Linked DNA regions of Homo sapiens: region 2 is linked to region 1. The links come from fine-mapping of genetic effects on gene expression. A gene starts in region 1. The other region holds a variant in brackets. All regions are shown on one strand. Distances are between the middles of the regions. Region 1 holds the start of FAM110C (family with sequence similarity 110 member C). Region 2 has its middle 58 kb from the start of FAM110C.

Region 1 (2,908 bases):
CTCAAAATCGCACTCAATTCTAAGCAGCTGTAACTGGCCATCGCCCAGCTCGGTCACACTCACCAAGATTCACAGCCCCGCACACGGCCAGCCCCGCCCCCAGCCTTCTGGGCACACACCTCGGGTCCGGCTCTGCTCCTGGCTGGGGGTCTCCTTGGCCTTCTTACAGGTGTACAGCCACTTGATGATGCGGGCGTTCCTCTCGATGACCGAAGTGGTGCTGGGCACCTGCTCTATCAGCTCCTCCTCCTGCAGCCCCTCGTCGTCGCCGCCGCTGTGCCGGGAGAAGCCGCTGCCGGAGGTGGCGACGCTCACGCTGCGCACCTTGAGGGTCACACAGTCCGACCCCGCGGTGAAGTTCTCCCTCCCCAGGGCCTCCACCACCTCGGGGTCCAGGCCGCAGTACTGGAAGAAGGTGTCAGACTCGGCCAAGGCAGCGGAATAGCGGGAGCTGAGGTCCGACTGTGAGCGCTGCAGCCCCCGACGCCTCACCACCCGCGGCTCTGGCCCAGGGGGCGCGGCCGGGACACTGGAGGGCGCCGCGGACCGCGCGGCTGGGGCTGGGGTCTCGGGGATTGCGGGGTCCGCCGCGGGGCCAGGAGTGGTCGGGACCGTCTCCGGGTTCCCGGCCTTGCCCTCGTCTCCCGTCCGGGGCACCGGCGCCTTGTCCTTACCCGGCCCCTGGAAGAGCTTCTTCACCAGGCTTGCCCTGGGGCCGTCGGCGCCCGATCCTCGCACGAATTCGCATTTCTGCCGGTAGATGATCAGCGAGTCCGGTCTCAACGGCTTCCGCGCAATAGCCCTGCGCGCCACCGGGGCCGGGGCGCGGGCCGGGGGCCCAGGGTCGTTCCCCGGGCACTTGATCGCCCCCGGGCCGCTGCCCTCGGAAGCGACGCCCCGGCCAGTCCCCGGCCGACCCCGCACATACTTGGCGCGATCCGCCGCCAGCCTCTCCACTGCGCTCCTGCGCGCCGGCCGCGCGGCGTCGGGGTCCCGGGTAGCCGCGGGGTCCCGGGGAAGGAGCCGCTCGTTCGGGGGCGCGCTCAGGGCCGCCAGGGCGCGCATCTTCGCGGGGAATGGACCGACCGGGGTTCCGGGTCCAGCGGAGACGCGCTCGAGTGGTAGAGCCAGTCAGTCCCAGGGCCGGTTCCGAAGTCCGCGCCGGGTGGGGAACGGCGCCCCAGTGCCCAGCTGCCCAGGCCCGGGGTTGGGGAGAACCGGAGTCTGCACCGATTGGCGAAACTCCCCAGTTCCCGCCCCTCCCGACCTCATCGCCCACACCGACTGGCACCGCCCCCGCCCCCGCCCGGTGCCCCGGCCCTGGCCGCGTCCCCGCATCCCCGCTCGTCCCCGCCCGTCCCCGCCTCCTCACTCCCGCCCGGGCCCGCCTCCCTGGCCGCTCTCCGGGTGCCAGCGCCCGCCCTCACCTCGCGTCCGGGGTCCCGGCCCTCACCTCCTGCCCGGTGCCGTCCCCGCCCCCCCTCACCTTCCGGCGGCGCTGCCAACCGCCTGGAGGACGCTGGGGCGAGCAGGCTCTGAACCCCCACTCGCTCAGCCCCAGATCCCCGAGGTCACTGCTGGACGCAGGCATTTCCGGGGAGGGGGAGCAGAGGGGACGTCCCCCCACCTCCCCCGGGCAGGTGCCTCACATCCTTTGAATTCTTAAAGTGACCTCATCGTGTTTGGAAACTTGACTGTTTAATTTTGTCTACCTGAGCTCATATTCTTATTAACAGAAAGGAATAGGACATAAGAGGAAAGAACACGCAGCGCACGCCAGGATCAGCCTACGTGTTGGGTGGCAAGAACGCAGGGCCTCGGATTGGGTCCGACTCGGTCGCTGGCCGGCAGCGGGCGTGGCCGGGCCCGAGGACCGAGCTAGGACTCTCAGTGGGGCAGGCTGGGGCCCCAGGCGCGGCTCAGTGGATTTGGAAGAAGCCCAGCCAAGTGTCCAGAATCATTGCTATTTTTACGGTAACCGAGGCAACGGGGAAACCACGAGTTCACCAGGCAGTGGATCAGCCTAGGAATGCTAAGAGTCTAAGATAAAATACTTCCCAAACTCCATTATTTCAAAAATTTGGACAAAATACTAAAGTTATCTCTCAGACATGTGAAATGTTCACGTTATCGCGTTGTGAAGACAACTCCGTAACAGGCTGTGCTTTCAGCCTTGTGGTTGAACGCTCCGAGCAGCAGCAGCCCGGAAGGCAGGGAGGGCGACAGGTGCAGATGGGCCCCCAAAGTGGGCACGAACACCTCACCAACGAGGAAGAGGACCGCAGCAGGGTGGTGCTGAGTGGGCCTTGGGGGTCTTTAATCTCCTTGAGCCCCAGCGAAGCAAAATTTCATAGGGATAGTAGCACAACAATAAATCGCCTCCTGAAAGCCAGACCGCCCAGACAGCCTCGTTGGAACATGTAAGACTCATAGGAAAAGGAGTCTAGGCCAATAAAGTAGAGAGTGGGAGAAGAGAAGGAAGGATGCGGGGGTGGGGAGTGAAAGAGAGGGACAGAGATGGAGAAAGGGGGAGCTCCTGGGTTGCCACAGATGGTTTCCTACAGGATGCGGGAGGATGGGGCCTTGAGGTCTAAAGTCCAGCCTGCTCTCTGCTTGGCAAGCCTGTTCCCTAAGTCAGAGGAAAAAACCTTTTTAATTGTGTAGCCCAAAGTGTCTTCTTTTCCTAATTTGCACTACTTCATGGGCAACAGCAGCACTTCTAAGACAGAGAACTGCAAAGTACAGGACCTCTGGAATTTGACCCTGGGTCCACAATTTACCTTTGGACAGGTAACAAACGTTCCAGGTTGTTTTGTCACCTGTAAAAATTTCTGTTTTAAATTTACAAGAAAAGACAATCCCATTAAAAAGCGGACAAAGGACATGAACAGACACTTCTCAAAGGAAG
Region 2 (2,908 bases), 58 kb after region 1:
ACTGTTGATTGAAGAGGGAGTCCTTTCCCCAGTGTAAGTTTTTTGGAAACTTTGTAGAAGATCAGAGGGCTTTAGGGATGTAACTTTTTTTCTGGGTTCTTTATTCTGTCCATTAGTCTATGTGTCTGTTTTTATACAAATACCATGATGTTTTGATTACTACAGGCTGGTAATACATTTTGAAGTCAGGTAATGTGATGCCTCCAGCTTTGGTGTGTTTTGTTTGTTTTTTCCTTTAGAATTGCTTTGGTTATTCTGGTTCTTTTGTTGGCTCCTTGTGAATTTTAGGATTGTTTTTCCTAATTCTGTGAAGAATGACATTGATATTTTAATAGGGATTGCTTTGAATCTGTGGATTGCTTTGGTCAACATTGTCATCTTAATGATATTAATTCTCCTGATCCCTGAACATGGGATGTTTTTCCATTTGTTTGTCCCATCTTCAATTTATTTCATTCATGTTGCCTAGTTTTTTTTTTTTTTGGTGGTTAAATTTATTCCTAGGTATTTTTTTGTAGTTATTGTAAATGGGATTGCCTTCTTAACCTCTTTCTTGCCTGGATCACTATAGGTGTATAGAAATGCTACTGAATTTTGTACATTGGTTTTGTATCAACCAACTTTACTGAATTCATTTATCAAATCTAAGACATTTTTGGTGGAGTCTAGGTTTTTCTAGATATAAGATTATATTATCAGCAAAGAGGGACACCTTGACTTCCTCCTTTTCAATTTAGATGCTTTTTATTTCTTTCTCTTGTCTGATTGCTCTGGCTAGTACTTCAGTACTATGCTGAATAGGAGTGGTGAAAGGGGGCATCCTTGTCTTGTTCAAGTTCTTAGAGAAAAGGTTTCAACTTTTCCCCATTCGGTATGAAGTAGCTATGGATTTGTAATAAATGGTCTTTATTATTTTGAGGTATATTATTTCTATGACTAGTTTGTCGAGAGTATTTTTCATGAAGAGATACTGCATTTTATCAAATGCTGTTTCTGCATCTATTAGAGATGATCGTATGGTTTTGGTCATTCATTCTGTTGATGTAAGGTATCATGTTTACCAATTTGCATATTTTGAAACATCCTTGCATCCCTGGGATAAATTCCACTCGATCATGGTGTATTATCTTTTTGATGTACTGTTGGATTCAAGCTGCTATTATTTTGTTGAAAATTTTTGTGTCTAAACTCACCAGAAATATTGGCTTGTAGTTTTCCTTTTGTGTTGGGTTTTTGTCTGATTTTGATATCAGGGTAATGCTGGCCTCATAGAATGAGTTATGGAGAATTCCCTTCTCTTTCATTTTGTGGAATAGTTTCAGGAGGATAGTATTATTTCTTCTCTGTAAGTTTGGTAGAATTTGGCAGTGAAGGCATTCAATCTTGGGCTTTTCTTTGTTGGATATGATGCTTTTATTACTGATTCAGTATTACTACTTATAATTGATCTGTTCGGGTTTTCTGTTTCTTTCTGATTCAATATTATATGTTTCCAG[G/T]CATTTATCTGTTTTCTCTGGGTTTTCCAGTTTGATGGCGTATAGTTGTTCATAATAGTCTCCAGCAATCTTTTTGTATTTCTGTGTTATCTGTTGTAAGTCTCCTTTTTCGTTTCTGACTTTGTTTATTTGGGTCTTCTCTCTTCTTTTCTTTGTTAGTCTAGCTGGAGGTTTATTAATTCTGTTTGTTTTTTTGAAGAATCAACTTTTCATCTTTTGATCCCTTGTATCTTTAGTCTCTATTTCATTTAATTCCGCTCAATTTTATTATTTCTCTTCTTCTAATTTTTGGTTTGGTTTGCTCTTGCTTTTTGAGTTCCTTGAGGTGAATTGTTAGATTGTTAATTTGTAATATTTCTCCTTTTTTGATATAAGAATTTATTGATATAAATGTCCCTTTTAACATTACTTTTCCTTTATCCAACAAGGTTTGCTATGTTGTATTTTCACTTTCATTTGTTTCAAAACATGTTTGATTTTCATCTGAATTTCTTCACTGACCCAATAGCCGTTCAGGAACATGTTGTTGAATTTCCATGTATTTGTATAGTTTCCAAAGGTCCTCTTGGTATTTATTTCTAGTTTTAGTCTCTTGTGGTCTGAGAAAACACTTGATTTAATTTTGAGTTTTAAAAATTTGTTGAGACTTGTTTTGTGGCCTAGAATATAGTCTATTGTGGAGAAGTTTCCATGTGCTGATGGAAAGAATGTATATTCTGCAGTTGTTAGGTAAAATGTTCTGTAAATGTCTGTTAGGTTCATTTGGTCTAAAGTACAGTTTAAATCCAATGTGTCTTTGTTGATTTTTTTTCTACATACTCTGTCTATTGTTGAGAATGGGATATTGAAGTCTTCCATGATTATTTTATTTCACTCTATCTCTCTCTTTAGATCTAGTAATATTTGCTTTGCAAATTTGGGTGTTCCAGTGTTAAGAACATATATATTTAGAATTGTTATATCTTATTGCTGGATTAATCTCTTTTTCATTATATAATGACCTTCTTTGTCTTTTTTTTTAACTGTTCTACCTTTAAAGTCTGTTTTATCTCATATAAACTTAGCTATTTCTTTTTTTCTCCAAAAAGAATGCTTTATTGAGAAATTACCCATTATTATAATAACGTTAAGGAAAAGATACATCAGTTACACCCATGCAACCTGCCTTCTCACTACATCCCACAGGCCGATTTTAATCTTGGACAAAGGGTACCGAGTGCTGGGGTTCCCCGGCCCCTGCATCTTCATTGTGTGTGGAGTGCCATCCCCAAGAGTGTCTGAAAAGTCCAGAGACATGGTTGTCAGAGGACACATGCTCTACCAAACAGAACACCTTGAACTGAGCAGCCCTTCCCCTCCTGGGAGTCACAGAGACATGTACACGACAGGCAAGCCCTCGTAAACTTAGCTAT

What was found. PIP is the estimated chance that this variant, and not a neighbour inherited with it, causes the effect.
Region 2: its variant is fine-mapped to the expression of FAM110C in whole blood (INTERVAL, PIP 0.98).

What each region holds. Positions count from the first base shown.
Region 1 is chr2:45,321-48,228 of GRCh38, forward strand. FAM110C (family with sequence similarity 110 member C) reads right to left here and starts at 1,185. Exons shown (of 2, transcript NM_001077710.3): 1 at 120-1,185. The coding sequence starts at 1,065.
Region 2 is chr2:103,508-106,415 of GRCh38, forward strand. No RefSeq gene overlaps it. Among named protein-coding and RNA genes, the nearest start is that of FAM110C, 58 kb to the left of the region's middle. The variant G/T (reference allele first, on the strand shown) is at 1,497.